Linked DNA regions of Homo sapiens: region 1 is reported to be linked to region 2. Evidence: microRNA targets listed by miRTarBase, many of them from high-throughput screens and not tested one by one. Region 2 holds a microRNA gene; the other region holds the end of a gene's coding sequence.

The links. Region 2 holds the annotated microRNA hsa-miR-4295 (CAGUGCAAUGUUUUCCUU, at 3,157-3,174, shown strand). A microRNA usually pairs through its seed, bases 2 to 8, with sites in the 3' UTR of a target mRNA and lowers its output. Matches are read on the target gene's strand: a 7mer-m8 pairs with bases 2 to 8, a 7mer-A1 pairs with bases 2 to 7 and ends in A, and an 8mer does both.
Region 1: the mRNA of PRPF4 is a reported target of hsa-miR-4295. Seed matches in the 3' UTR shown: 7mer-m8 at 1,225-1,231.

The regions. Positions count from the first base shown.
Region 1 is chr9:113,290,951-113,295,349 of GRCh38, forward strand. It overlaps PRPF4 (pre-mRNA splicing tri-snRNP complex factor PRPF4), which reads left to right. Exons shown (of 14, transcript NM_001244926.2): 13 at 1-66; 14 at 517-1,955. The coding sequence ends at 710. Among named protein-coding and RNA genes, the nearest start is that of RNF183, 10 kb to the right of the region's middle.
Region 2 is chr10:112,631,024-112,635,422 of GRCh38, forward strand. MIR4295 (microRNA 4295) reads left to right here and starts at 3,147; the gene lies at 3,147-3,231. The region is part of intron 5 of VTI1A (vesicle transport through interaction with t-SNAREs 1A); the gene reads left to right. LOC124902503 (a long non-coding RNA gene) reads left to right here. Exons shown (of 2, transcript XR_007062292.1): 2 at 450-4,399.

The sequences.
Region 1 (4,399 bases), not on the chromosome of region 2:
GACAGCGGCGTTGCGTCTACACCATCCCTGCTCATCAGAACTTAGTGACTGGTGTCAAGTTTGAGCGTAAGCTTTCCTCCTATTTTACGTCTAAATGACACAGACAAACAGTATTGTGTTCCCGTGGAATGCAGGCCAGGCTTTAGCTTAACTGAGCAGTAAAACAGGAGAGAAATTGACCTACTGGTAAAGGAGCAAATTATAATTTCCTTCCCTCTGCCATACCCTTAGATCTGTGGGAAAGCACGCTTCTCGTTGCAGGAAGTAAAGCAGACTTTCATGAGTGCTTTGCTTCATTCTTTCCTCCATGGATGCTCTGAGCACTGAGTCCTTAATATTATTCTGAATAGATTCTCGGTCAGGGAATGAGCCAAAAGACCTTACTGTTATTTGTTCCCTTAAGTCTGTAGAAACAAGTTTTTTTAAAAATAGTATGTTTTTGCAGACTTTTGTGCTTTTGTCTTCTCTTTTGAATACTTGAATTCCTCAAGCAATTCCCCTTCTCTTCTCCTGTAGCTATCCATGGGAACTTCTTGCTTACTGGTGCCTATGATAACACAGCCAAGATCTGGACGCACCCAGGCTGGTCCCCGCTGAAGACTCTGGCTGGCCACGAAGGCAAAGTGATGGGCCTAGATATTTCTTCCGATGGGCAGCTCATAGCCACTTGCTCATATGACAGGACCTTCAAGCTGTGGATGGCTGAATAGATGACAATGGGAAAAGGACTTGAACCTCAAGCTCTCTCTAAGGAGCTGTTTTCCTCAAACGAGAAGAATTGAAGTGTTTAGTTCTATCATGTTTTCTGCCAATTACCATGCATAGACCCTCAGTAGAATTGGATTTCCATGTCAGCCCCCACTCCAGGAAGGCAGCCCAATCCCTAGGTGATGGGGAACCCCTCTCACGGTTGAAAATTTATTACCTTTTTACGCCCTGCCACGAACTGTGTAGACATTGTTTTTATTAATCTTTTGTTTGGCCGGGCGTGGTGGCTCACGCCTGTAATCCTAGCACTTTGGGAGGCCGAGGTGGGTAGATCGCTTGAGCTCAGGAGTTCAAGACGAGCCTGGGCAACATGGCAAATGCCGTCTCTGCAAAAAAATACTAAAATTAGCTGGTCGCGGTGGCTTCTGCCTGTGATTCCGGCTACTTGGGAGGCTGAGGTGGGAGGGATTGCTTAAGCCTGGGAGGCAGAGGTTGCAGTGAGCCGAGATTGCGCCATTGCACTCTAGCCTGTGTGACAGAGCAAGACCCTGTCTCAAAAAAAAAAAAAATTTGTTCGAATGCCTTATAGCCTTCCTCACAGCACCCAGGATTGTGACTGACTCTGCATTTTTAATTCTTGAAACTTGGCTTTCCATAACATGGTACATGCTTCAGGACTACATATGACCCAGAGAGCAAGGTGGCTGAACTATAGTCTGGAAGCCCTCAGGTAAAGAGGCACATCTCACCACTCATTGGTTAAACAATGCATCATAGCGAGCACTTTTCCTTTCCCTGGAGAATGGGATGTGAAGCAGTAGACCGCAGCCACGCCGATGGTTATACAGTGAAGAAGACTTCACCTCTTCCTATTGAGTTTGCTTGGAATGCTGACAGCATCAGGCAACTCTGAACTGAACATTTGCTTTGTCAGAAAATATCTTTTTTTTTACTTTGAAGTTTGGCAACCTTCATGTTACCCCAAAGCAAAACCATTGTGTCAGGAGTCAAACAAATGTTTAGAAAGCAAACATGACGTCTCTATTGTACAACCTCCTTTCTCTTGGCTGTTTAAAGGATGTACTTCGTGTATTAAAGGGTACTTTATGTTGAAGTAACGAAAAAACCCTAATGGGTGTTCCTAAACCTAAACCTTTTCTTTATTCCACATTTGCTACGGTAAAATCCTGTTACAAAACTACCCTATAAAGAATTATTTTCTATAGTTAAGCATTTTCTGAATCCTAGCCATTGGTCCATAGAGGTCTCTTTTTTTTGGTTTGGGATATAATGGATGATCTCAAATATGGATTACTCTGATTTATGTCTCCTTAGCACCTTGTTAACAATTTTTTTTAAAATAGAAGGCTGTTTGCATTTTGGGCCAGACTGCCAGTAAGCCAGGCCTGGACTCAATTACAATTCTTAACTTGTCTGTCATGCACCTCTTTTCACCTCAACTATACAGCCTCTGAACTCTCAAATTACACAGTAAATTCAAAAAAATATATAGGAATTTGGAAGAAGAAAAGGTTGTCTACAGAGGAGAGTTATTAAAGAAAGGCTTCTTGGCCGGGCACGGTGGCTCACGTATGTAATCGCTTGAACCTGGGAGGCGGAGGTTGCAGTGAGCCAAGATCACACCGTTGTACTACAGCCTGGGCAACAGAGCAAGACTCCATCTCAAAAAAACTTAATTTGCTGTTGCAGAGAGGTTGACAATGGCTTTGGTCAGCTCTATTCTGTGGACCCTGAATGTGTGATATATAGCCAAACAACTGGTTTGTTTTGTTTCATTTTGAGACAGGGTCTCGCTTTGTCGCCGAGATTGGAGTGCAGTAGTGCGAACACAGCTCACCACAGCCTTGACTTCCTGTGCTCAAATGATTCTCCTGCCTCATCCCCTCATCCTGTGTAACTGGGATCACAGGAGGATGCCACCATGCCTAGCTAATTTTTTTGATTTTTTGGTAGAGACACGATTTCACTTTGTTGCCCAGGCCGGTCTCAAATTTCTGGGCTCATGCAATCCTGCCTTGGCCTCCCAAAATGCTGGGATTACAGGCATGAGTCACTGTGCCTGACCTAAACATACTGTTTTTAATCTGATTTCAATTATAACCAAATAGTTGCATTTCCTATGTAGTTGTTCAGCTTCTGAATTCTCAGGACTACCCTCTGTTGCTCACTTCACTATTGTTCAGGTATTAATGAATTCTATTTCATAGATTATGATGAAAAGAACTTTTTTTCTTCTTTGTAGTATGTGTAAAATAATGAAGAACACTGGTGAATTAGCATGCAATTGGATATAATGTGCTAACAAAGATTTTTAGTTTCTCAGGTTTAAATTTTGCTATTAGTTCCCTTCGACTTGTTTTTCTTTGTTTTTTGGTTGGTCCAAGAGGTAGCAGTTGGGTGAAAACATTTCATCCAAGCCTTTGACAGAACAAATACCTTGTGGGCTATTTCTTCACAGGAATTAAAACATCATTGTAAGAAAGTGGTTAAGAAGCACAAAGCCAGGTGTGGCATTTGTGAAAATGGCAAGATAAACAGCCACCGTTTCACAGAACACTTAGTCCCTACCTAGATGGTATACCAGGCACATTCAGATACCTTGTTTAATCCCCACAATCTTTTGAGTTTATTATTCCCTTTTTATGGACAAAACAGGCTCCAAAAACACTTGCTCAAGTTTAGCCAGCTAGCAAGTGATGGAGCTTGAATTTGAACTGTCATCTGACCATTGATGACCTTATGAAGGTTTCACAGGTTCCCCACACTGGCCAGACAAAAGGACCGGTACAGCCAGCATGGCCTGTTTCCTGTACGAAGTCTGAGCTTTTTAAGGACTCTCCACTTTGTATAATGCCCCCCACCCTTTTTTTTTTTTTTTTTTTTAAGAGATGGGATCTCAGCCGGGCGCAGTGGCTCACGCCTGTAATCCCAACACTTTGGTCAGGAGTTTGAGACCAGCCTGGCCAACATGGTGAAACCCCATCTCTACTAAATATACCAGAAATTAGTTGGGCGTAGTGGCAGGCACCTGTAATCCTAGCTACTCGGGAGGCTGAGACAGGAGAATCGCTTGAACCCGGGAGGGGGAGGTTGCACTTAGCCGGGATCGTGCCGTTGCACTCCAGCCTGGGTGACAAGAGTGAAACTCCATCTCAAAAAAAGATGAGATGAACTCCTAGGTTCAAATGATCATCCTGCTTCAGCCTCCTGAGTAACTGAGATACAGGCACGGGCCACCGTGCCCAGCTTGTATACTGCACTTTTGACAAGTCACTTCCATCTCTGAGCTCATGCCCATGTTAAAGTAACTCTCGCACATCCTGAACGGATGAGGAGCCTATTGTCAACAAGATAGCTATTTGCATTTTTGGTTAGATGATCTTTCATCCTGTGGAACTGGCAACATAAGCATTGCAGCAGGTGTTAGTATCCCAGACCTCTGAGCCCTAAATGTCAGCAGTGCAATTCACCCCCTCCACTGACTACAAAAGATGCTCCCATGCATTTCCAGATACATTCGAAGAGGATGGGACTGCCCCAAGCTAGAGCTACCGAATATGAAAACAGGAGACACCATGATGTTCAGGCAGCCCTCCCTCTCCATCAGCGGGTTCTAGGATTCAACCAACCATAGGTCGAAAATACACTACTGACCATATACAGACTTTTT
Region 2 (4,399 bases):
AGACAGGAGAATCGCTTGAACCCGGGAGCCGGGAGGTGGAGGTTGCAGTGAGCCGAGATCGCGCCATTGCACTCCAGCCTGGGCAACAAGAGCGAAACTCTGTCTCAAAAAAAAAAAGCAGTATGAAAACATGACACTGCTATGCTACTCTCAACTACACTGGGGAGCTCAAGCTGATAAGAGCGTAGTATAGAGTAAAGAATATTAATTTTTAAACCTTATTTATTTATTTTAATGAGGTACAATTCACGTAATAGAAAATTAACCATTTTAAAATGTACACATCAGTGACATTTAGTACTCTTACAGTGTTGTACTACCACCACCTCTATCTAGTTCTAAAACATTTTTGTCACCCCAGAAAGAAACCCCATCCTCGTTAGGCAGTTGCTCCCCTTTTGTGCTCCACCTAACCCCTAGTAACACCAGTCTTCTTCCTGTCTCTATAGATTCATCTATTCTGGATATTCCAAACAAATGGAATCCTACAACATGTGACCTTTTGTGTCTGGTTTTGTTCACTCAGCATAATGTTTTTGAGGTCCATTTACATTGCAGCCTAGGTCAGTACTTCATTCCTTTTTATGGTTGGGAATATTGATTTTAAGTTCTAGGCCTAGCTCTGCTATTAACTCCCTGAAAGCCTGACGCAAACCTCTGAGCCTTATTTTGCTCGTCTGTAAAGGTGAGGGCTGTGTAGCCTATGGCATGTGAGTTCCGCAGGAAGCTCTGGAACAAAAGGTCTTCAGTTCAAGTAAGTGTGAGGAACAGTGCATACTGTGTCTTGTTTGTCGTGACTCATAATGCTCCATGTACTAAAGATTTGCACTCTTTAGCCCAGGATTGCTCAATCTGGGACCAGAGAACCCTTTTATTTCGCCTATTTTTGTTTACATCTTATAGAACATAATCCAGGATTCTAAGACACTGTAATCTATGAATCACTTATTGATGAAATTCCACAATATGGTAATTATAACAATATAATTGTAATTGTAATTGTAAAAATATACAACTTGGCCAGCCATGGTTATGTTGATCTTTTCTCCAAGTTAGTGTCCATCAGTTGGGGTAGTATTCTTCCCTAGGGGACATTTTGAACCTTTGTTGGGGCATTTTGGTTATCTCAGTGATAACTCAAGGGTAATAAACATCCTGGAATGTATTGCGTAGTCTTTTACAACACTCCCTGATCCTGCACAAACTCTCAAATGTCCTGCTGGTCATTTGTGAAGGTGCACACCCTATTTATAATTATCTGAACGTAGTTTTCCATATGAACACAAAGTATTTTTGTGTGGCTTGAACGTATGTGGAGTTTTCCAAGTATACAATAATTGTGTAAAATCAGGGTTTATTTTAAAAGAGTTCTTTACCATTGAAGGATAGACAGGATTATGCTACAGTAACAAATTAACCTAGAAATTCTGGTGGTTTAACACAACAAAGGTTTCTTTTTTATTTATGCTAAAAGTTGATCAAGCATTGACAGAGGGCTCTGCCCCACTTACTCAAGCATCCAGACTCCACCATGGGGATCGTTGCCAGCCACTGCGGGCAGGGATAGACGGGATTCACATACCAGCTCATCAATATTTTGACCCAAAGTTGAGGTACATCACTTCTGACTATAGTGTACCGGCCAGAAATAGTCATATAGTCCTACCTAACCATAAGGGGGTTAGGGAAGAGGAACAGGTGGAAAGTTGGGTGAGTACAGTGTTCATGGTAATGCGACTTGTAGTATTTGAGCTGTCATTACAGTGCTTGTGGATTGGTTTGCATATGTAGTGTCACATGCATGTTGATTGTACATGCATGTGACAGTTGTATAGGCACAAGCATGTACTTACTTAGTTGTATCTATTAGTATAGTAATGCCTGGGTATTTACAAATAGAAATACTTCTTATTTTGTTGTAAGTTATTTTCCTGTATTTATATTACAGCTAGGGCATTATATTGATTTCTTTTTTAAAAATCCTGTGTGAAATATTTGTTACAAAAAGGTGGTCTGGGCTGGGCGTGGTGGCTCATGCCAGTAATCCCAGCACTTTGGGAGGCTGAGGCGGGCAGATCACGAGGTCAGGAGTTTGAGAGCAGCCTGACCAACATGGTGAGTCCTGAGAGGAGAGGTCTGAAGGAGAGGAGAGGTCTGATGGTGATGAAAGCCACTTTTCTAGGTCTTCGGCATCATCTGGAACACATAGTGGGTCATAGAGAATTACGGGACTTACATAATAATAGTAAGAAGAAGATTAGCTCACATCCTTTGAGTACTCCGCATGTGCCAGGCACTGTGCTAAAACCCTGTAGGTTGATTCTCTGCTTTAAGCATCACCAGAAGCCTGTGAGGAAACCTCCGAATTCTCCATCTTACAGGAGAGAGCTGCTTTTTTCCTTCAAGTATAATGGAAAAGTTGTGGTCCCCAGAATTTCTGTCCTCCCTATGCTAGCACGAAGGGATAATTGATCTTCAGACATTGAAAAGAGATAGCAGGCAAAACACCGGGGCTGGAACAACACAGCAGGATACCCAGGGATCCCAAAAGGAAGTCAAAGAAGAGATTGGAGAAAAGCAGTGGTGAGGAAAAGGGCATTGCCCCCAAAAAGTAATGTCTCCCATGCAGAGAAGACTAGCATTACATAAATGTGTCACTGAGAGAGTTACCTTACCCTGACTCTGTCACCAAATTTTATTAAATGCCTCTCCTATTTCATCCTTGTTGGTGAACTTCCCAGTTCTTCTCTTATTTTATGGGCATAAGAGCTTATACTTTGCAGTTTAGTTAGTTAATTTATTTAAATAGCATTATCAAGTTGGCTCTAGACTAAAAAAAAAAAAAAGTCATGACTCACTCCAGAAAATACCATCAGTTAACAAACGGAAAAAAGGAAAAAGGATCACAGTTAACTCAGAATTATAAAACAATGGTTCTTTTAGGCTTCCTATTTTAGTGGTGTATCCAAACACCTTTTTCCCAGAGTAATAGAGCTTTCTTCCCTTTTGGTTGCAAGCATTATATGAGCAAGATTGGCCACTTTAAAAGTTTTGTTGCATCTTTACTTTCATTACTCAACCTTTATTTCTCCTCAGTCTTTATTCCATAAGAAATATGCTTCAATGGCTTATGCATTTAGAATTGACTTTGTGGAACAGTGCAATGTTTTCCTTGCCTGTGGCAAGACCACTTCGGTTCAAGGCTAAGAAACTAGACTGTTCCTACAGAGACCCTCTGGGTGACTCATCTCTTTTGAGATCCTGATTGTCCATTTTTTGGTTGGTGTTCTGGCAGCAGTGTGTGTTGCCCTGAAGGCACCCTCTCATATGGTGTTGACTACACTATGCTGTGCTATTTAATTCTTGTTTTGGATTGTGCCTCGAGTTTTAAGTCACTTGACAATACAGAAGGTTTCTTTCTCCAAAGATTATCAATATCATACCATTGCCTCTCGGTGGTTATACACACACACACAGACACACACACACATACACACACACACACACACACACACACACACACACGAATTTCATGTTTTCTTCCTTTTGAAACTAAATGTGATCTGTCTGACCTTTCTGAGGAGTCTGCTGCTTTTTCAGATTTATGTCCCTGTGACAAGGTGGTTTGGCAAGCTGTTTGTCTTAATCACTCAGCATCTCCATTAGACAAGCTGTTTAAAAATCTTCTACGTAATTATCTTTTTTGACTCTCACTCTTCCACATTCTTTTCTTTATTGTAAACTTTCTTATGACTTTTTTATATATCTGCCATGTTCTAAAAGGCATTTAAGCCTTCTTACACTGTTTTGTCTGCTTTTCATTAAGTTTGCCATCAATTTACAATCCATGCCCATTGCCTCCTTCACAATCTGAATACATAAACATGCATAATAAATAAACTCTGGGGTTGAATCCTGGACTGAGTGGCCAACATTTTTTCTGTGTCTTCCTTAACTGTTAAAATAGGCAGACAGAGGAGCATTAGAGGAGCTAATTCTAGGAGTCTCCTACGGACATTTGCCGGAGTTTTCACTGCCTTGTTGTTGCCTGTAACTGCAAAGTTCAGAAAGCTGGGGCTGGAGGTGCCTTTATTCATAATATGAGCCAGGCACTGTGCTCATTATTTGGGGGGAATAAAAGATAACACATTTCCTGCCTTCAAGCAGCTTTTACTCTGGTAAAGAGGATAATGCAGGCATGTAAATCTTGTGGAGATGAGACAGCGTGCTGAGGAATTTAAGGAGAAAGATCCCTTTGGTAAAGGCAGATGCAGAATTCATGGCAGATGTAGTGTTTTAGCAGAACCGTGAGCAGTCAGCAGGATTGTACGGATTGGAGATTGGTAGAGGCATTCCAGACAGGGAACCGCAAGGGTCAAAGCTCAGAGGTGGCCAAGTC